Linked DNA regions of Homo sapiens: regions 1, 2 and 3 are each linked to region 4. Evidence: fine-mapped expression QTL. A gene starts in region 4. Each other region holds a variant in brackets. All regions are shown on one strand. Distances are between the middles of the regions. Region 1 overlaps RASSF4 (Ras association domain family member 4). Region 2 overlaps RASSF4 (Ras association domain family member 4). Region 3 has its middle 51 kb from the start of CXCL12. Region 4 holds the start of RASSF4 (Ras association domain family member 4).

What was found.
Region 1: its variant is fine-mapped to the expression of RASSF4 in whole blood (INTERVAL, PIP above 0.99).
Region 2: its variant is fine-mapped to the expression of RASSF4 in skeletal muscle (GTEx, PIP above 0.99).
Region 3: its variant is fine-mapped to the expression of RASSF4 in non-classical monocytes (Schmiedel 2018, PIP 0.94).

What each region holds. Positions count from the first base shown.
Region 1 is chr10:44,986,390-44,991,676 of GRCh38, forward strand. It overlaps RASSF4 (Ras association domain family member 4), which reads left to right. Exons shown (of 11, transcript NM_032023.4): 7 at 2,885-2,986; 8 at 3,281-3,332; 9 at 4,559-4,680. Among named protein-coding and RNA genes, the nearest start is that of DEPP1, 10 kb to the left of the region's middle. RefSeq lists an enhancer at 4,613-5,287. The variant T/C (reference allele first, on the strand shown) is at 2,471.
Region 2 is chr10:44,980,090-44,985,376 of GRCh38, forward strand. RASSF4 (Ras association domain family member 4) reads left to right here. Exons shown (of 11, transcript NM_032023.4): 4 at 2,432-2,574; 5 at 3,933-4,024; 6 at 4,724-4,881. Among named protein-coding and RNA genes, the nearest start is that of DEPP1, 3.9 kb to the left of the region's middle. RefSeq lists enhancers at 1-319, 320-1,021, 470-539, 3,813-4,313. The variant A/G (reference allele first, on the strand shown) is at 2,555.
Region 3 is chr10:44,433,705-44,438,991 of GRCh38, forward strand. No RefSeq gene overlaps it. Among named protein-coding and RNA genes, the nearest start is that of CXCL12, 51 kb to the left of the region's middle. The variant C/A (reference allele first, on the strand shown) is at 2,520.
Region 4 is chr10:44,957,189-44,962,475 of GRCh38, forward strand. It overlaps RASSF4 (Ras association domain family member 4), which reads left to right and starts at 2,614. Exons shown (of 11, transcript NM_032023.4): 1 at 2,614-2,678. TMEM72-AS1 (TMEM72 antisense RNA 1) reads right to left here and starts at 2,501. Exons shown (of 8, transcript NR_033842.1): 1 at 2,404-2,501. RefSeq lists an enhancer at 2,293-2,587 and a silencer at 2,365-2,584.

The DNA of each region.
Region 1 (5,287 bases), 29 kb after region 4:
CAGTGAGGGTTTTCATCGCAGCCTCTCATTTCCAACTGAACCACACTATCAAGAAGAGCTACTCAGCCAGACAACATGGGGTCTCAGCCTGTCACCCAGTGAGGGCAGCTTTTCCTCCTAGTGACAGATTTGCCCTTGCAATGTGAATCCATTCTTCCAGAAAAAAGTACTGCTTTCAAGGACACAGAATAGTGTCTTAAGCATTTGGGACAGTAGCTCCCCCACCTCCTGGGTAAGGGAAGTCCCAAAGAAAAGCACTATGCAAAAAGCCCTTTCTTACCACGCTCAACATCCATACAGAACTAATGTCCTTAGAAATGAGGGGACAGATTCCTTGAGTCAGAGGCAACAATTGAAAAAATAAATAATTCCTAGCATTGAATTTCTGAGATAGTTCCAGGTTTTGTTTCTTAGAACTGTGCACCATTACTTCACTCAGTCATTTTCCAAAACTGTTCTGATTCCCAGAAATGTTGGTTTTATTTCCAGACAGGGTGAAACTTTGTAGCTGTTTCTACTGCCTGACCTATTGGATTCAAATGCGTTCTGTTAGAGAGAAACCATTTGTGGTTAGAGATAAGAAAGTAGCCAGGGGGCCTTTGTTCCTACTTGGAGTTGGTTGGTATCATCTTGAGAAAAGGCTTCGTGCAGAAGAAACACAGTGTCTTGTTAACAAGACTTTTTGTCCCTTTGAAATAGCCTAACTCCTCTGTTTCATGTTTCTTTTTTTATTTGAGATGGAGTCTCACTCTGTAGCCAGGCTGGAGTGCAGTGGCACGATCTGGGCTCACTGCAACCTCCACCTCCTAGGTTCAAGCGATTCTTCTGCTTCCTGAGTAGCTGGGACTACAGGTGCGCACCACGATGCCTGGCTAATTTTTGTATTTTTTGTAGAGACAGGGTTTCACCATATTGGCCAGACTGGTCTTGAACTCCTGACCTCGTGATCCGCCCGCCTTTGCCTACCAAAGTGCTGGGATTACAGGCGTAAGCCACTGCACCTGGCCCTCTCTTCCATATTTCTTTGGACAAGAAAGCCTAATCCTAATCCTGGCTTTCTGTATAACTCAGTCATTCTGCACCTCAACTAGAATCGAGCTGGGGGAAGCAGGTCGAGGTTGAGTCTGACTCTGGCACAGCGTGCTTCATTTTATTGTGCTTCTTGTTACTGTACCTTGCAGATTTTTGCAAATGGAAGGTTGCTGTTCAGCAACCTTCCATTTGCAAAAATGTGCACTTTTTTTTTTTTTTTTGCTGCACCTGCGGTTTCTGCAAATTGAAGGTGTGTGGCAACCTTGTGTTGAACAAGTCTATCGGTGCCGTTTTCCAACACTATGTGCTCACTTTGTGTCTCTGTGTCAGATTTTTTAGCAATAAAGTAGTTTTAATTAAGGCATGCATATTTTTTAGATGTAGTACTGTCTCACCCTTAAGAAACTACAGTATAGTATAAACATATCTTGTATATGCCCTGGGAAACCAAAACATTTGTGTGACTCACTTTATTGAGATATTCGCTTCATTGTGATGGTCTGGACCTGAACTCACAATGGCTCCCAGGTGTGCCTGGACTTATCAGAGCGGGGATACTGAATAGGTCCTTGAGCTCTCTGAGCCTTAGCTACCTCCTTGGGAAAACAGAGCTAGGATCTCAGAGGAGGAATATGCGAATCTAAACTTGAGTTTGAAAAGCAAGGAGAGGTTCACCTGCAGAGGAGTCACATTCGCTGGGAGGCACCAGCACCAGGGGGGTAACATGTAGGTTTTCAGGAATCATGGAATCCTTTGAGTCAGGGCTCTGTCTTTTCTAGGTGGGTAACTCTGAACAAGCTGGTTAACCTCCTAAAGCCTCTGATTCCTTTCTAAGAAAAGGGGACTAGTTATAGCTGCCTCAAAGGGTTGTTATGAATATTAAATCAATGATTGTATGTAAAATCTTAGCGGGTTCAATACACAGCTAGGGTTTATTGAGGACGGACCTATTATGTGTCAGGCAGAGTCCTGGTTGATTTCATATATGGTGTCTCTTAGGCAAAGGCAAGATACCTGCAAAAATATAATGTGTCCCCCCACCCCCCAGCCAAATTGTGAAGAAGCTCTGTGACTGGAGCACATGGTGCTTGTTAGGCAACCATAGTGTCATACGTGCGAGACAATGAGAAGAACTACAGATGTTATTGCACAGTCCCCAGGAAGCCTTCAGATACTTTTAGACCCGCGCTTTCAAACAGTGCTTCTCACATTGAACTGCACAGATCGCTTCGCCTTGTGTTCTACAGACGCAGACTCTGATTCAGATGGTATGGAGCAGGGTAGGGAAGGGAGCCGAGACTGTATGGATGCAGCTGGGCTAGACGTCACTTGGAGGTGCAAGGGTTTTAGAAGTCCGTTCCTGTAGGCAGCGGTGCAGACTACGGATTAGAGGGACTGAGACCAGAAGGGAACAAGCTGGGAAGCTGATATGGTGTGA[T/C]CAGTGCCTCTACTAGGCACTGCTGGGAGAATGAAGAGGAGGAGACAGATTGGGTAACTTTCAGCCTTAGAATCAACAGACAACTGGTGACTTAATCAATAGAAAGAGTGATGGAGAGACTGATTCCCCCACCCTTGTGAATGACTTCCATGGCCCTGGTTCCTCGGGTCCAGAGAGCTGGCCCTTCTGGGTGTGTAGACATCTTCCTTAGGCCTCTGGAAGGAGTGCACTACTACAGCTTCCCGGAGTGTCTCCCAGGTCTGGGAACAGCTTATGTGTGCATCAGCGTGAATGGACAGGTGCAGGTGTTCCCAGATCTCAGCGTCACCTGCTGCCTTGGTCTGTTCACCGTTGTGATGTCAGTCCCTTGTCCCCTCTGGGCCTGACCTGAACTTCTCTCCCTTCCTGGTACAGACCTCCGTGTTTACTCCAGCCTATGGATCCGTGACCAATGTGAGGGTCAACAGCACCATGACAACCCTGCAGGTGCTCACCCTGCTGCTGAACAAATTTAGGGTAAGCCTGGTCAGGAGCAGCCTTGCCCCAGGATGCCAGTGGTCTGCTATTCTGTTGGGGGTGGGGTTCTGGGGAAAGCTGCCCGTGGCAGAAGCTGCCTGGGCAGAAGGTCTAGCAAGGGTCCCTCTGCTGAGCTTTGGTTTCTCGGATTTCAAGCAAGAGGAGGTTGGGAGAGGACAGGTTCCTTGCAACTTGCGTGTGTGTTACTGGGGGTGTAGTTACTGTCAGGGGACCCTCTCAGTTCTCTCCCATCTCCAAGCACCGTGATCTGACTTCCTGTGACTGCCTGTGCAGGTGGAAGATGGCCCCAGTGAGTTCGCACTCTACATCGTTCACGAGTCTGGGGGTAAGTACCTGCCCCACTTCTGGATCGTAAAAGCAAAAGGTCTCTACCTGTTCAGCAAGCCCCCTCCCCACCAACCACTGACTGTACTCCCTTCCAGATGGGCTCCGTGCTGGCTTGCCTAGTGGGCTAGGGCACACTGTGCCTCCCAGCATGAACATTTCTCCCCCACCCAAACCCAGGCACACTATGGAAGCCTTGAGGAAAAGAAAACATACTTTTGGCTTCGAATTTAAAGCACATTAAAATGTCCTTGGATTTTCTAGGTCGCTCAGTACATTAAGTTTAATTCTTTCAGGATTCTGAAGGAGAATCCCACCAAGCTATAGGAAGCCTCCCTCTCCGCCTCTTCCAGAGAAATGGATGGGTGGGTACCTAGCTCCTTGGCGCCGAGTCAGGAAGGGTGGGGTGCGTGTCGCAGTGCATCAGGCCCTGGCCCTCCCGTCTCAGCTTTCCTTTCTCCCACCCCTCAGATCTTGTTTCTCTTCAAGCTGCACCTTTGCTGAATGACACTGTAGGGGAGGAAAATTATCTTCTCTTTCTACCCATTTAGGTTCACTGGCTGGGGCCCTGTATTTAGATTAACAAAAGACAGATTAAGGAGAAGAACAAACAGAAGTTTGTTAACACTTGCATCATGCATGCCCTTTGGAATATCCAGGGATGAATGGTCAGAATTTGGGCTTAAATAGCATATTCACAAAAGAGCAGTAAGTTTTTAGAGAAGTGACAAGACAGAGGAGAAGGGCCTGAGTTTCTGGGGAGGCGAAGGGTGGGAAGGTCACCGCACGGGGAGCTGCGGGAAGGGAAGGGCTTCAGCGGGACGTGCTGTGCAGGTTCCTCTGGTGCCCTCTCCAGGCTGAGGAGGGGCTCGGGTTGTCTCTGGTGATTAACTCCATCATTGCCTAGAGAGGGACGGGGGCACACCTTGACAAATTTATGTCCTGCTTTTTGGCAAATAGGGGAGGGCAAAGAGCCTCACTTGTATCTTCTTCTTCTCAATTGCCAGCCGCTCCACTTAATCCTTATGCCAAAGTGGCAGATCTGGGGGCCCTGTTCTGCCTCCCTTCTGCATGAGCAGGAATCTCTCAGGGCAGCGCTGTTAGCGAGGTCTGTGTTCTTAGGGTTCCCTGCGCCCCTAGACGCACATTTTCTATCAGTTCCTAATCTGGAACAGACAGAGGTGATCCTAATCTCCCGTGATTTTTGTAAACCACCTTCTTTTTCAGAGCGGACAAAATTAAAAGACTGCGAGTACCCGCTGATTTCCAGAATCCTGCATGGGCCATGTGAGAAGATCGCCAGGATCTTCCTGATGGAAGCTGACTTGGGCGTGGAAGTCCCCCATGAAGTGAGTGGGGGCCAAGGCTGGGGAGGCCTGCTCTAGGGTGAGGGGTTCTTGGGTGACGGGGCCTCCCAAGGACTCCTGGCCAGAGCCCTGTCAGTTGATGTCTCCAGGAGCTCCACACTCTCCCAAAGGGCTCCCAGCCTAGCACAGGGAGGCGCCAGCCCTCCCTCTCCCATCAGTGACCGCCAGCACCAGCAGCTTAGGGGAAAGAAGAATTTGGGTCCTATAAAACCATGGCCTGTCCTTTTCCTCTAGGGAAGTAAAGTCTTTTCCTTCATTGGAATGTATTTTGTTGTCATTATGTGAGAGACCTATGCAAAGGCTTTTTAACTAGGCCCTACCTCGCACCTGTGGAAAACAGGGAGATATTTAAGTCTTACCAACAGCCTGAGTTCTGACCAGACAGTGAGTGCATTTCCAAACTCCTCTGCATAGAAGATGCTTACAGGGTTTGAACCTCAAGTAGGAGGCCTAGTGACCCCGTATCCCTCAGGCTGCTGCAATTGCATTCCATTGTTAGAAACAATGGTGCTCCCACCTCCCTACCCCCTAGCCCAGAGGGCACCCAATGTGACAATGCTGCTGTACTGAATGCTCTTCCTAATATTCA
Region 2 (5,287 bases), 23 kb after region 4:
CTTGAGAGTTAGCCCAAGCCTGAGCTCTGAGTACTGGGCAGACCCCAGACTCCCTAGGCAAGCAAGAGGGACCGGCAGTCCCAAGTTCTTGAATTCTAGGTGGGAACTCCATGTGCACAAAGGCATCGGGGCAGGGAGTGCCTGAGACAGTGACCAGGATTTCAGTGGCACATGGCACTTCTCACCTTGCCCAAGCTCTTATATCTTTTGTAGACCCTTTGTCTAGTTCGCTGGCTCTTCTTTGAATTTATTAGCAATGAGCAGATTAGTCAAGAGACCAAAAGAGGGAGGGAGGCGGAGAATTCGCTGCTGGCTGACGGGGCTTTCCCTCCATTCAGATGCGGCCAAGCTGGGGGAGGGTGAACAGTGGGCGGCTATGCTGGGGGCACACACATCACCTGTGTAGGCATGTCTGGCCTGAGTCATGGAGAGCCAGCCTGTCCCCAGTACAGCCAAGCCCCCGACCTTGTCCAGGCAGGTCCTGAGGTCAGGGCCACCTGCTCAGCTTTCCTCCCTGTCCCCCTTCACTCGTCTTCCAGGGTGCAGTGCACAAGCACCTCCTCCAAGAAGCTCCATTGCATCTCCTTCTGCGTCCAAGCCCGAGCCCCTCGTGGCCAGGGCTGTGTCTGCTCCATCTTCCTCTGCCTGGCGTCCAGGGTGGGGCTGGAGGGCAGTGGGTCTCCATGAGTGAGCCATCCCCACAAGCTCTCTCCACTGAGAGGCACCCGAGACCAAGAGGCAAGAACAGAACCCCCCATAGACCTTTGAACTCCATAGATCCATGCTGGCCTCTCCTTCATAGGAAGCTCAGTGACACATCTGTGCTTGTAGAGCACCAGTGAGTATCAAAAACAGCTCTGGTTTCTGCTTGTTTGTTTTCCTTTTTAGCAGATAGTGCAAGGTCATATCTGGAAGCTGTGTGTATATTTGATAACCTTTGGATACACTATTTTCTCTGTGGATGGCAGGATGTTTGAACCTAGAAACCCCATTTCTAAGTTACCATGAAATCCACATTGTGCAGGGTCTTCCTGAGTGCTGCCAGGGATACAAAGAAGTTTCCATGGCGTCCCTGTTCTCACAGGGCTTTTAGTGCCAACGAGGAGAGAGAAATGGGATTTGTGAATCTAAAATATGGGTCAGAAATACTGCATGATTCCCTTATATAAGGAATCTAAAATAGGCTCATAGAGGCAGAGAGTGAAAATGGTGGTTGCAGGGACTGGGGCAGGGGAGGAGGAAGTGGAGAGTTGCTGTGCAGCTGATATAATGTTTCAGCTATGCAAGATGAGTAAGTCCTGGATATGGGCTGGACAACGTTGTGCCTACAGTGAACAATACAGTATTGTGCACTGAACAGTTTGTTTAGAGGGTAGTTCTTATGTTAAATGTCCTTATCACAATAAAACATAAATAATAAAATTAAATGTTGGTTGAGATGGCAATGAGAGAATGATATTCAAAGTTAATTGTGGGAAGACTAGTGTCAGAGCACATTAGGAGTGTGTAGTTTCGAGACTGCGGCTCTGGGTAGAGGGCAGCTGAGGTTGCTGGCAAGTATTCTGGCAAATGACTCAGCTTGGCCAGGCTTACACACAGAGTGACCGGGATTGGCACAGAGGCCTGGGGTGGTCTCGCAGAGACAGAGGCCTGGAATAGGTCAGAGGCACTGAATCAAGGGCCCAAGGGGTGCCAACCAGCACTACTAGCAAGGTGCGTGCAGAGGACTCTGTTGATTAGGGCCCCAGGTTGGCAGCAGGAGAGAAGCCATGTCACCTGCAGACCTAGGGAAACCGAGGGAGGTTGGGGACATGGGATGAAGGCTGTTGTAGAAATTCTGGTATGGGATATAGGGCTAGTGATGTCTAAGCAGTGGTGAGAAAAGCAAGACCCTTTGTCAGCCCTGGCAAGTGGACGCTGCTGCTGTTGGAAGGCACCGGGAGAAGGGTGAGGCTGAGACACAGCTAGGACAGAGAGTGCCCACTTCTCCTCTGGTGGGTGTGGGACCCTGCCGGGCCTGGTGGCCATAGGACCTGGTGGCGCAGGACCCCCTCCCAGGTGCAGTGTGGGCAGAGAGGTCCCCTGCTTGGCATGAGCAGACAGGCTGTGCGTCCCTGGAACCACTTCTTCACCGCGGTGTGGACGTGCCTGCCGGCCAGCAGCTGGCTTCCTGTGGGACACCTGACTCAGCCACTGTGTTCTGCGCTGTGCCCCTGGCCAGGCATGAGCTGAGCACATCTCAGGCTCCCTCCCACAGGGCCTGGTCACACGCCCCAGGGCACGTAGTGGCTGATGGTCCTTCCTGAGGGGATGGGGCCACTCAGGAGGAGGGATGTGCAAGGCCTGAGTGTTCAGAGCATCCCATCCCTAGGGGGCACAGGGAAGGTAGGCAGCTGCTCTGGGGGAAGGGCTGATGTGTGGACCCCCACAGGAAGAAGGGACTCTGATCATCGAGGGGCTCCTCAACATTGCCTGGGGGCTGAGGCGGCCCATCCGGCTGCAGATGCAGGATGACCGGGAGCAGGTGCACCTCCCCTCCACCTCATGGATGCCC[A/G]GACGGCCTAGCTGCCCTCTGTGAGTACCCGGTGGCTTCTGTGACACCTGCTCAGCCTGAGCTCCCGGGTTGGGGATATCCCGAGCCTCAGGGTGGGAGCCCTGTTCCCTTATGGGACACTGGCACAGGAGGGTGACCCAGCCTCATCCCCATGCCCTGTGACTGCCTCAGTCCACAGCCTCGCCCAGGGTGGCCTCTCCCTCCTTCCTGGAGAACATTCCAGGCTCCCATGACCTCTATTTCTGTTTCTCAAACCTTCCTGCAAGCCACCTTGCTGGCAAGAAGGGACGACTACAGCCAGGGGGGCTCCCAACACCTATGCAAGCCGAACATGTCTCGCCATCTCTTGTTCTATCTTTAAAATTCACACGAATTTAGCCTCTTACTACTCTGTTTTCATTTTAATGTCAAAATTTTAAAAATAAATTTATCAGAATTTCACATTACATTTGTTTAATATCAGAATAATGTTTCTGTCAGGAGGAAATGGTCTCCTGCCTGCCTTACCATTCAATGCACATTTATCTCCTCCTCGGCCCACTCCCAAAAGACGCAGTTAGTAGCTGGGCCTTGCCTGCTTCTGCAGTAGTAACTCCTGTAGAGGGCACACATTCAGAGCTTTGCCCCCTTCAGATTTCATATGAAACCCATGCTGTGACAGCACCCACCACCCTGACAGCCCCAGCACATACCTAGGTGTCCCCAGTCACTCAGCGAATTCTGAGGCACACAGAATTAGAGCATAAAGTCAGACTCCTTAGGAAGGCTGCAAGTGTGACTCACATGTGCCCCTCTTCGAGGTAAAGCACTCACAGACAGCAGTCGCGGCTGTGCCCGTGTATTCTCCAGGATCCCATCTGTCTTCTCTTCCCCAGGTCCCCTGGGCTACAGGGCTGTGCCCCATCATACCCACTCCTTCTCCAGCCCAGCACTAGCTACCCTGGCCTGGGGCTCATCCTGCCAAGAGGCCTGGAGGTTGGGCCCTTCTAGGTGGCCCCTGCCTGACACCCCACTAGGCCTTCGGGAAGCCCAGCGAGCCTGTTTGGCACACAGCTGCTGGCCTGGCTAAGCCTGGTGTCTAGGAATGCGCAGGCCCTGACTATGTTCATGTGTCCGTGTGTCTGTGCGATGCAGCCCAGCACAAGCCCTCAGGTCTGCAGGGCCAGGCTCACTCTCCGTCCAGCAGATGCTGGGGGGAGGCCTCTACTTTTCTTTTATTGTTTCAGACTGACTCTCTTGGTTTGAAATCCAGGCCTCACCTCAGCCTGCCTTGCTTCCCGCCTGTGTCCTACCCCAGGGGCTGCTGGTCTCTTCTCCTTGGCCTGAGCTCCCTTTCTCTGCCGGCAGCCATCTCAGCCCTGCAGTTGTCTGTTTTCAGAAAGGAGCCATCGCCCCAGAACGGGAACATCACAGCCCAGGGGCCAAGCATTCAGCCAGTGCACAAGGCTGAGAGTTCCACAGACAGCTCGGGTAAGCGGAGCCCGCAAGCTGCCCAGACCCCTGCCTCATCCGGGGTAGGAGCAGAGGGGCTTGGCTCACAACCACAATCTCCGAAGGACAGCTTTGTGCCCCAGCCAACGAGGGGCTTCACCTGCTGGACCCCTACCCAGGTGCCTGCCTGTGAGGTGCTCTGCCCTCATTCTCGCTCCTTTTTATGGAAAAGTGAGCAGAGGCTTGGGAGGTGACAGTGACAGTGTGGGGGTGGCCTGAGTCCCCCGCCCTGTGTGTGCTATGGGAAACAGGAGCATCCACAGAAGGCACTGCGCTCTCCTGGCCCCTCACCTCCCTCTGCGACCTCGTCCTCACCCTCTGTACCTGCTCACTCATCCTTTTTATTCCCCTTCCTTTAGCCCTCAGTGAAGGGCCTGTTTCAGAGCAGGGGCTCAGAAGACAGGGCTGGGGCCACCAAAGACCTCCATGGGCACCCTAAGACAGAGACCAAGAGGGGTATGGCCATGTGACATTGTGACCCAGGTTACCCTGTCTGGGTCTCACCTTCCTATCTGCAAGCTGGGAATATCCAGCCTCCAGTCCAGGAATGGCCCTCACGTCCCCATCTGCCCCAGTGCACGTGACCACAGGGCTCTAGGGTGCCAGATCTCCCGACAGCAGGCAGTTGCTCTGTCAGCATCACCCACCCTGCCATTCTCTCACCCATTTCTCATGCAGGGCCCCTGGAGGAGGCAGAGGAGGCCCCCCAGCTGATGCGGACCAAGAGCGACGCCAGTTGCATGAGCCAGAGGAGGCCCAAGTGCCGCGCCCCCGGTGAGGCCCAGCGCATCCGGCGACACCGGTTCTCTATCAACGGCCACTTCTACAATCATAAGGTGATGCCCCAGCCTGGCCTCTCCCCTGGGCGCATGGGGAGCCAGGCCTGAGCACAGGCACAGCAAGCACCATGACCTGTGTGGGGGCTGCTGGCATTCCTGTGCCCTCAGGAGGAAAAACCAGGTTGCATCCACATAACAGCCCCGTTTATGACCTAAGCATTTTCCAGCACATGCTCACTGTCAGTGCATCCTCACAAGTCACACAGAATTCTGGCAAGTAAGCTGGGGATGCCCTGGGCAGACAGTAACGCTGACCGTGTCTTCAATGAGGGCGCTTTCTAGGAGGCTTCCCCCCGAACTCGATTGGTTGATCCCTGGGAACACTGTGTATCCAGCCATCACTCTCACCGAATAATTAAGCAGGGGTGTGCCCAGGGCACATGTGTCTGTGCCCCAGAGAACC
Region 3 (5,287 bases), 520 kb before region 4:
AGGTTTAACATAATCCCAAACTTCTTGGAGCCTTTGTTCATCTTTTAAGATTCTTTTCCTTTGTCTTTGTTGGATTGAGTTATTTCAAAAGCCTTGCCTTTGAACTGTGAAGTTCTGTCTTGTGCTTGCTTAATTTTATTGCTGAGACTTTCCAATGTATTTTGCATTTCTCTAAGTGTGTCCTTCATTTGTAGAAGTTGTGATTGTTTTTTATTTATGCTTTCTATTTCACTTAAGATTTTTCCCTTTGTAGCTTGTATAAGTTTTGTTTGTTTTTGTTTTTGTTTAAATTTCATTAAAGTTGGACTTCACATTTCTCTGGTGCCTCCTTGAATAGCTTAATAATTGACTTTCTGAATTCTTTTTCTGGCAATTCAGAGATTTCTCCTTGGTTTGGCTCTGTTGCTGGTGAGCTAGTGTGATCTTTTGGGCATGTTAAAGAACCTTGTTTTGTCATATTACCAGAATTGTTCTTCTGACTCTTTCTTATTTGGGTAGGCTATTTCAGAAGGAAGATCTGGGGCTCAAGGGCTGCTGTTCATATTTTTTTTTTGTCCCATGGGGTGCTCCTTGGATGTGGTGCTCTCCCCTTTACCCTAGGGATAGGGCTTCCTGAGAGCTTAACTGGAGTGATTTTGGTTTCTCCTTAGGATCTAGCCACCTAATGGAGCTACCAGTCTCTGGTCTGGTATTGGGGAGGGTCTGCACTGAGTCCTATAATGTGAACTGAACTGTCTCCAGGTCTCTCAGTTGTGGATACCAGCACTTGCTTCAGTGGACGTAGCAGGGGAGTGAAGAGGACTCTGCAAGGGTCCTTGGTTGTAGTTTTGTTTATTGCACCATTTTTGTGTTGGTTGGCTTCCAGCCAGGAGGTGACAATTTCAAGAGTGCATTAGCTGCCATAGTATAGGGAGGATCAGGTGGTGGGCAGGGCCCTAGAGCTCTGAAGAGATTATGTCCTTTGTCTTCAGGGTTTTTTGGCTGTCTCTGGGCACCTGCAGCAGCAATCCACTTCCTTCAGAGGGTCTGTGGATTCTCTCCGCTTTCCGGGTATGTTGCTATGGTAGTTCTTGGAGCAAAAGTTCACGATGTGAGTCTCCATACACTGCTCTGTCCAACCGAGTGGGAGCTGCAAGTTAGTCCTGCCTCCTATCTGCCATTTTTCCAGGGTTCTGATCATCTGTCCTTTCTTCTGTAGAGTCTTAGGCTGGGGAGGTGCAGGAGAAGGGGAAGTGGGTACCCTGATAATGCAGTTTTCCTGACCAGGGTCTCCAGTTCTTTGGGACTTTGAGCCAACTAAGACAGAGGCAGAGACAGGAGCTCCACGCCACCTGTTCTCTGCCCACATCACTGGCAGGGCCCCCAGGGACCTCTGCTCTTTGGGACCAACAGACACATTTGCTCTTCACTCCTCTAAAGTAGCCCTGAAGGCCGGGGCTTTCAGCCTCAGCCTCCTGTGGCCTCAGCCTCGCTTGTTGCAAAGTCTCAGGTATTTCACCTTCCTACCCCCAAGTGGGGAATCAGCTCGAGGAGTCAAAAGAGATGTTTCTTTTTCCACTCGGGTCACTGTCCAGTGTCCCCAAAGCATAGATGGATCCGAGGTGAGAACCTCTGTGGACTGAGAGAAGCAGTGGTGATGCATGTCCTTGACAAGCTGGGACTAGACTGGACACACCAGCTTCTGTCCAGATCTGCTTGCTCATCAACTTCACTTGGCTTCTGCTTTGCTCTGCACCCTGGTTCCGGTAGCTGCAGGGATATTGAACTCACATTTCAATGGCACTATCATGCCTTGGCCGCCAGAACCTAAACGTTAGAATCTGGCTCTTCCCTCTTCCCCTTGCCTCACTTTTCACCAAATCCTGATCATGCATCCTCTGCCACAGCGAGAGCTCTTTCCCTCCTTGCTGCCCTCCTGCCCTCTGCCTGGTTTAGCCTCATGGCTTCCTTCCTGCATTATTTTAATGACCACCTGCCTGTGTACCCCTCGTCCCCAGGCTCCCTCCTCCAGGGCACCTTCCCTTAGCAGTGAGAGAGATCTTTCCAAGGCATAGCTGGGGTCCCCACTTTCTAGGAAGAAAATGCAATGTCTCTCAAATAACATTCATAGGATTTTCATGGTTCTTGAGGGAGAAACGGGAATCCACATATCTCACCTGCCTTTATATACCAGAGAAGAGGCAGCAGACTGCCAATTCCCTGCAGAGGCCCTGGGATGGAAGGCTCCATCCCTGTCCTAGCCACTTGTTCTTCCCCTGCATCTGTGGCCTCCGGGCTAGTGTGCTCAGGGATCTGACTGCTGCCTTGGCACCCTCAGCCCCATCATCCTTCCCATGAAGTGCCCTTTCTCAATGAGTAGCCTCATCCACCACTGTCACCCAAACCCCAGGCCCATCCTTTGCTGTATCTTCCCTACTTATCCAGCTGGTTGAAGCTGCCTCTGAGTGCAGTTAATCTGCTCTTGGTGCCCTCTTGTCTCCTGGCCCACCCTCACCTGTGGATACCTGGCGCTGCCTCTC[C/A]AAGGCCATCCCTCCCACCAGTGTTTGCCTTACCCCTGTCCCCTGCCTCTCAAGTCAGAGGTAATCCCTGCTGCTGCTAGGGTGATCTGTCTAGTGATAAAATCCGACCTGCTGGTACAGCCTGCAAGCCTCACTTGGTCCTCCCCTCCCCTCCACCTCAGCTCCCAGCATCCTTGTGCACCTGTGGCCAACCATGCCCAGCTCTTTCTCATGTGCATTGGCCTTTGAACATGAGCTGTCTTTGCCTGGAGCATCTTTTCCCTCCTGACACTGGCAAGCTGCTGCTGGGCCTGCCCTTCTCAGCATGATTTTACCTCTCCCAGGAAGCTCTCCAGGGACCCTTAGGCTGGGTCTCATGTGCTGGCTCTTGCTTCCTCAGCACTCTGTTCATGCTGGAGAAATAAAGTGGCATAAAGTAGAGTCCTGCTCCTTAAGGTTCGAGTGTAGACCTCTGACTGCTCCTGCAACAATCACTTCTATCACCAGCATCAGCAGGTTTTCCCTTGCCACTGCATCTTTCCAACAGCACATCAGCTTGCAGTGAAAGCTTGGTCTTTAAAAATAGGAATATGAAGCTTGTTTCCTGCCTCAGGACCTTGTTCCTGACCCTACTCCTTCCTGGATGGCCCCCGTGCAGGTCTTCTCAGGGTCATCTTGACTCCGCATCCCTCCTGCAACCACCATCCCACTTCTCTGCTCCTCTCTAAAGGAACATCTGCAGAAGTGGCATGTCTAATACCAAAATGTTGGTTCCTACCCCAGAACTGCCCCATCCCCACAGCCCTGTTCTACCTAGACAGGGTCCGCATCTCACGGAGGGCACTGCCATCTTCCTGTTTGGCCTTCCCACCCAGGAGCTCCTACTGCTGCCTACCCTACTTCCCATAGTGCTTGGGGTTATGATCTCCATGTGCTTCTACTCCAAACCACCTGTAGTTTCCTGTCCCTTCCAGAAGAAAATCCAATCCCAACACCGTGGCCTGTAAGGCCCTGACCACCTCCTGCCATGCCTTCACTTGCCCTGTTCCAGCTACACTGACTGTGAGATTCCTATAACATGAAGCTGTTTTTTCTCACTCCAGGACCTTTGCATTGACTCCACTCCTTCCTGGACAGCCTTCCAGGCTCTTCTCAGGGTGTCTCCCTCACATCGCTCAAGTACGTTCCCTCAGAGAGGCCTTCCCACACCTCCGGACCTGGTGTCCCTGGCCATGTCCTCTCCTGCTCCCTGAACACAGCAAGCTTCCTTCCATTCATATTATTTATCAGGACCTGAAATGGTCAATTTATTCACTTATTTATTGTCTGTTTCTCCTTCTGGAAATATAAACTTCCGGGCAGGGACCTCATGTGACTTATTTATCACCTAAACCCAGGGCCTGGCTGGTACTGGAGGAGCTGATGGGCCCTGGGGGTTCCTCCCAGCTTCATGACATGGCCCACCGCTGGCCTTCTGCATCAAGGCTGGGAATACTGTAGCCAGAAGGAAAATCTCTCTGTTAACATGGAATTAATAAAAGAATGCTTATACATGGTTGCAGGTAATATATATATAAGATAAAAATGACATTCTGCCGAGAGATAGAGAGAACCCATAAACTGTTTTTCCTGCATCCTTACATTGTCTTCATATGAAAAGAAAATTTTAACTGCTGGCTTACACACTAGTTTTAGATGTAAGCCACCATTTATGAGACCTTTTGGTAAGTGCTGAAGTAAAGTGATGAGCAGGAAACCAGGCCAGCATGTCCCGGCACCAAGAATGGGAGTGGCCACAGGGCAGCCTTCCCTGGAGAACTTGCTCTGATGCCCCGTGAAGTCCTGTGAGCTCTGGGGCCAGAACCTGGCCTGGTACCCCTGCGCCCCAGGGCTCTGCCCCAGTCCATGATTCTTTCTGGGATTGTCATGGACTTAACTCATTACCAAACACGCATAGCCCCTTGAGGAGTTTTGGCACACAAGGCATTTGGGATGTCTTGGGGAAGAAAATGAAATACTTTAATGTAATCAAAAACACAGGAAGCAGATGCCCCTGAAATATAATATGTTCTAGGAGCTGCTCCCCTGCTGTGTGGCCTTTCATGCTCTGCAATATTCCAATGCCTTTTTTTTTTCCCCACAGAATCACTCACATGTCACTTTGGTGAGAGGATGAGGCATTCAGATTGGGAGAACTTGTTGCTTTGTCAGCATTATTTTCAGACAAGAAGTTTTACTTCTTGTTTTTATATTTTGAGAGAACAATGTCTTACAACATTCAGGAATTAGTACTTTGCATTTTCAGGTTCACTTTGGTGCAGCCCTTAGGGTGCTTGTGGGTCTGGCCCAACCTTCCCTGGAATGAGTCTTCGGTTGAGGGGGCCTGACGTCAGCGCCCTGCAGGGTTCATCTGTGTCACCTAAAAGTGTCCGGCTGCTTGGCCTGGCTATTTCTGCTGAATGCACAAAAATACATTTTGCCTTTTCTCCTTCCAAGTTGCAGTTTCTTTTCTGCAAATGAAGCAGAAGAAAAGTGCTGCATTGACATGATGAACTGAAAGCACACTCACTTCAGGGACATGTTTCTTCAGTTGGGAAATTCCTCTTTTATTTGTGACTAGTTGTTTTCTTTCCTTAGTCAACTTCCTTCAACCCTCAATGCATGTGACACACACACACACACACACACACACACACACACACACACACATAATCGGGGTGCCCAGAAGTTCCCAGGGCCCAGCACTGGCTCTCTGAGACTGTAGGCTCTGGGGGAGGGTGGGCTTTAGG
Region 4 (5,287 bases):
CTGAAACATAAACAATGCAAACAAAAAGTTCCACAAAACACAACTTATATTTACTATTTGTGCTGTACACTGGTATTTTCCCTTGCATTTTTGAAGTACTAGTCACATCATCAACTAAATTAATTTCATGACCCACTATTGGGTTGTAAGTAGAGTATGAAAAATACAAGTGGGCATGAGCCATAACTAGGGGCTGGCATGTTGCTGCTACAGACAAGTGGGTATTTCTCTCTCCTTTCCTTCCCTCCCTCCCTCTCTCTTTCCTCTCTTCCCCATTCCCTCTTTCCTCCCTCCCTCCTTCCTTCCCTCCTTTCCTTCCTTCCTTCCCTCCTTTCCTTCTTTCCTTCCTTCCTTCCGTCCTTCCTTCCTTCCTCCCTCCCTCTTTCCCTTTCTTCCTTCCTTCCTTCCTTTTTGTCCTTTTCCTTCTTTCCTATCTTTCTTTTTTCCAAAGAAGGAAATGGACATTGGCTGGCAACCAACAGTATCTGTAGCCTCCACCATAAGTGAGCTGGAGACCACACCCAGTTCTACTGAACCCTGAAAGAAAAGGTGACCCCTCCTTCTGAGGGGTCTGACAATGGACCCTCCCCTTCTGAGGGGAGGACGCTGACAATGGACACCTGTGTCTGATGTAAAATGCAAGCACTCACAGCCATAAAAGAGAATAAAATCGTGTCCTTTGCAGCAGGATGGATGTGGCTGGATGCCATTATCCTAAGCGAACTAATGCAGAAATAGAAAAGCAAACACCACATGTTCTCGCTTACAAGCAAAAGAGCTAAATATCGGGTTCACCTAGACATAAAGATAAAAACAATAGACACTGGGGACTTCAAAAGTGGGAGGGAGACAGCGGGGCGAGGGGTGAAAAACTTCCTATTGGGTACTATGCTCACCATCTGGGTGACAGGATCAATCCCAAACCTCAGTACCACACAATGTACAATTGTAACAAACCCGCACGTGTATCCCCTAAATTTAAAATAAAAATGGAAATTTTAAAAAATGCAAGCAGTAACACCAACTGCCCAGGAGTGCTGGGGGAATTGCATGGGATCCCCAATGTAAAGCACTAGCATAGTGTCTGAGCCCACAATGGGTGCACAGGACACATGGGGTTGCTGTCCCAAACCCAGTCCTCACTCAGAGCCAGTCATGGCCCTGTGAACAGCATTAATTAGGTCAGAGAGAATGATTCACACTCGAGTTCTGGAGAGCCCAGGGAAACTGTTATGTCACCCTGGTGCTATGTTTACTTCTCCTATCAGGAGTGATTAAATTCTTAGGATCTCATGCTCAGAGGTTGACAGTTATATTGAATTTTACCCACTTTTAAAAAACCTTTGGAAGCACCCGATTATTTGTCTCAGCTTTGATGAGGGCTGTGGAAGAGCAAATGTGTCATGACAAGTCACCAACCACAGGGAGCCTCAGAGCTGTCAAAGGATGGGCCATTCTCCAAAAATTCAAGCAAACGCAGAAACGGGAGGGCCCCTGGACTGGGTATCTTCAGTCCTGTCACTTTTTGCAGGTGGGGGTTCCAACATAAGTCATACAGCAGCCATACAAGCATTAGCACAGCCCCTCTAAGTCGAAGTTCAGGGACCCATGAGACTCAAATCCCAGGCTGATTTTGGTGCATATGGCCACCTGCACTTTCTAGAAGATCCATATCAGATTCTAAAATGGCCATGAGACCCTAAAAATATTAGGAAACGCACACTGAATGAAACTAAAATGATTTATGTTAGGGGTGGGAGAGAACAGGTCCAGAGGTCAGAGCTGGGAATCGTGAGGTAAAGCAGAAATTGCAAATGTTTTCCATCAACCCCATCCCCCACCTTGACACCCCCACACCCCAGAAACACTGAACTGTTCCCAGTTCCCCAAATGGCTTGTGGTTTTCTGTCCTCTCTGCCTCCGTGCTGGCAAATATTCGTCCAGGAGGCAGTGACTGGGAGAGAAAGACTAACTTCTTATTCACCAGATCGGATTTCTTAAACAATAAGGAGTTCTAAGAGGCCATGCCAAGCAAACGGCCAGACTGTACAAAGGTGCCCCTTGAGCAATAAATAGCAAATGCTCTGGGCTTTACTGATAAGCCTCCCCAGACTCCAAGCCCCACCAGGCATGCAGACAAGTGCCTGCAGTGATTGCAGCGCCTGCGCAGCGGCCCTTGTTGGAAGTCCAGGAGTCCGCGCTACCCCGCAAAGTCCCTGGCCGCTGCCCGCACACCGAACCTCTCGGGGCTGAGTCGGGCTGCTTTCTCCTCGCGTCCCGGGGCGCCCTCGGGAACTCGGGAGCGCGCGGCGAGCTGAACAATGGCCTGGGGACACCTGGCAGGTCGCAGGCCCCAAATCTTCCCCGCCGCCCCTAGGCCACCGCCCTGCACCCGGAACCTACCGGCGTTCCCAGAGCGGGGCGGACGGGGCGGTGCCATTGGCCGGTGCGGAGTGAGGGGCGTGCTCGGGGCGGGACGGAGAGACCGGGGCGGCACCTTTGGCCGTGCCGGGCGAGAGGCGGGGAGCGGGGCGGGGCGAGGGGCGAGGGGCGGGGCGAGGGGCGGGCCTGGCCCCGAGCAGCTGAAGCCTGGGGTCAGCAGGCGCTGCGGGCGCAGCTCCGGTGCAAGCGAGGACACGACACATGCAGTGGCTTCTGGACTGCGCGATGACTGGACGGTGAGTGATGAACGAGCAGGAGAGTGCTTGGGCGTCCATGGAGCATCCCCTCCGACCCAGGACTGCCACCAGGCAGGGACGCTGAAGCCTGGGCACTTGTGCCCTTCGGCCGCAGCGCGCAGGGTCCCTCCCCCGCCAGCCTGGCGCATTGCGGGCCTCGGGCTCATTGCTGAGAGGGGGCACTGCGCCTGGCACCTCTGTTAAGCAATTTAGGGGCTACAACCTGAGCAAGACAGATGAGCCCGGCCACTGGCTACACCTTTTTTGTTCACCTTGTCCTTAACCAGTTTCCTAGAAGCACTGATCCTAGAGTTGGGGAGAGAGCCTAGAGGCCTCTGGCACAACTCTGATTTCACTGATGGAAATCGAACGCCAAGATAATAGCAGCAGGGGGGGTCTGTCTCACAATCGCTGTCTGTAGAGGGCTCGCCTTGCTCTGGGCCAAGTGCTTTAACACGATATGCCTCTTACTCCTCACAGCAAGTGAGAGTCCTACTTTCGTTATCCCCTTTTCAGATGTGAAAACTGAGGCTTAAAGAGTTATAAAATTGTCCACCTTTACCGGATGAGTTGGTGATGGAGCCAGGATTTGAACCCAGGGCTTGTTGTGCCCCTGAGTCTCTTGCTCTTCACCCTTAGTCTCCGAAGGTCAGCCTGCCTGCTGCCCTGCTCTTCTGGGCTCCTGACTCCGGTCCCATCCTGCACTTCCCACTTCCAAAACATGCCTCAGTGTTTTCATTAACCTGGCACGGCGGAGGGAGGGAGGCCTCCTCTCACACCAGAATCAGTGCCCAGGCCAGGGCCAGCACTTTCTTAAAACACAGTAAGGACAGCTTCAGGAGCCCCATTTCACATAGGAATTAAATAAGGTCGCACAGCAAATAAGGGCTGGGCTTCTGGAATTTGAACCCAAGCAGGTTAGACTCCAAAGCTATGCTTTGCACTCACAGAGGAGCCCCTCGCTGGCTTTGCTGTAGTTTAACTGCCCACAGTACTAAGGTGTCAATCAGGATTTGTTGCCAGAAACCATTTTTTTTTAAGTTAGAAGTGAATTGGTGAAGTAACAGGTAAATGTAGACCATCCTGCCTTCTGTTCCTCTGTGTGGTTCCTTAGCTACTTCTGCCAGGACAGCAGGTTAGGGGAGAAGACAGGAAGGGAGAGGGTCAGAGGAGAAAGAGGAAGGGAGGGAAGAGGAGAGATGAAACTCATTAAACTTAGGTTAAAAAAATGCTGGCCGGAAATTGTCATGGGCTGTTTCAGCACTTTGTCAGTGTATGTGAAGGCTGTTGTCATTAGTTCTAGCCATAATTCTCTCAGTGTGTAGTGCTGGTGATTTGACAACAAAAAGGTTGATGCTACAGATTAAAGTGTCTGTCTGAAACTCAGGAGATTGGGTTGTATTTCCACCATGAAGCTCCAGTGGGTAGCCTGGAGGTCGAGAACAGAATCAAGGTCCAGGGTCGCCCTGGGTCAGGACCAAGTGGACCATGACAGATAACAAAGAACATGAACGAAACTTGGGTGTGTGTCAGAGTTCAGATTCTGGACGTGCAAAGCCTCAAAGGGGAGACCTAACTAGGGGATCTGCCAGAAAGCCCTCTGCCCTGGGCCCCTGGGGTCTGGGGCCTGGTTTCAGGTGTCAGCTCAGACTCTCTCCTCATTCATGGCCACTCCTGCAGGCAGGCCTCACATTCCCATCTCTGGGGCTCCACAGTCTCTCCAGAGCCCCCAACTCCCAGTGTCAATAAGAATAGTAATGGGAGCCTCTTTTCATTATGGGTGAGCCCAACACAAGGCCCATCTTACAGGTCTCCTCATTCGTCTTCACAGAAGTCATCGAGGATTATAGTTATTTAATTGATGAGGAGCCCAAGGTTCAGAGAGGGAACTGGACTTGCTTAAGGTAACAGAGCCAGGCAGTCACAGAGCAGAGCTTTAAACCCAGAGCCTTGCAAAGGCTAGGTGGTTATTCTCTCACAGAGTATGTTTGGGGAAATTGTTTTAAAATAAAGAAAATCAAATAAGAAGTGGCTGCACTTCCTAAAGCTTCAACAGTTTTCTTATTTTTGTAAAAGAGAAACTTGTAGTTCCCGGGGTCTCCTTTTCTGGCTGTCCCACCTTCTGCCCTAGGATATACTGTTGAGGAAGAGGCCCGGAACCCCCTCCCTTTGCCCTGCCTGACCTTGGGAAGCAGGGGTGGGGTGTCATTGAGCCCCATAGCTGCAGTGCTGGGAAGAGCCCTGAAGACTCTCTATCAGCTGCCACAACAGCTCTGGCTAAACTGATGCCCAAGAGACGGCGCAACACGCTAGGATCACAGGCCAAGTTAATGCCACAGCAAAACTCACATGCAAGGCTCTACAACGTTCCTCTGCCTCCTCTTTCTTGCTGTGACAGGTTTCAGCAGAGATTCTAAACCTAAGATCTGGGGATCTGGGAGTACATGGACAAGAGCTGTCTCATCTCCCTGCAGTGATATGCAAATTGTGTGTGTGTTTGCACGTGGATGCAGATTGCAACAACATGCACATACATGCATTTTCTGGGGAGAGTGCACTAAGCTTTCAAGAGACTCCAAAGGACTCTATGACCCAAAAGATTCTGGGAC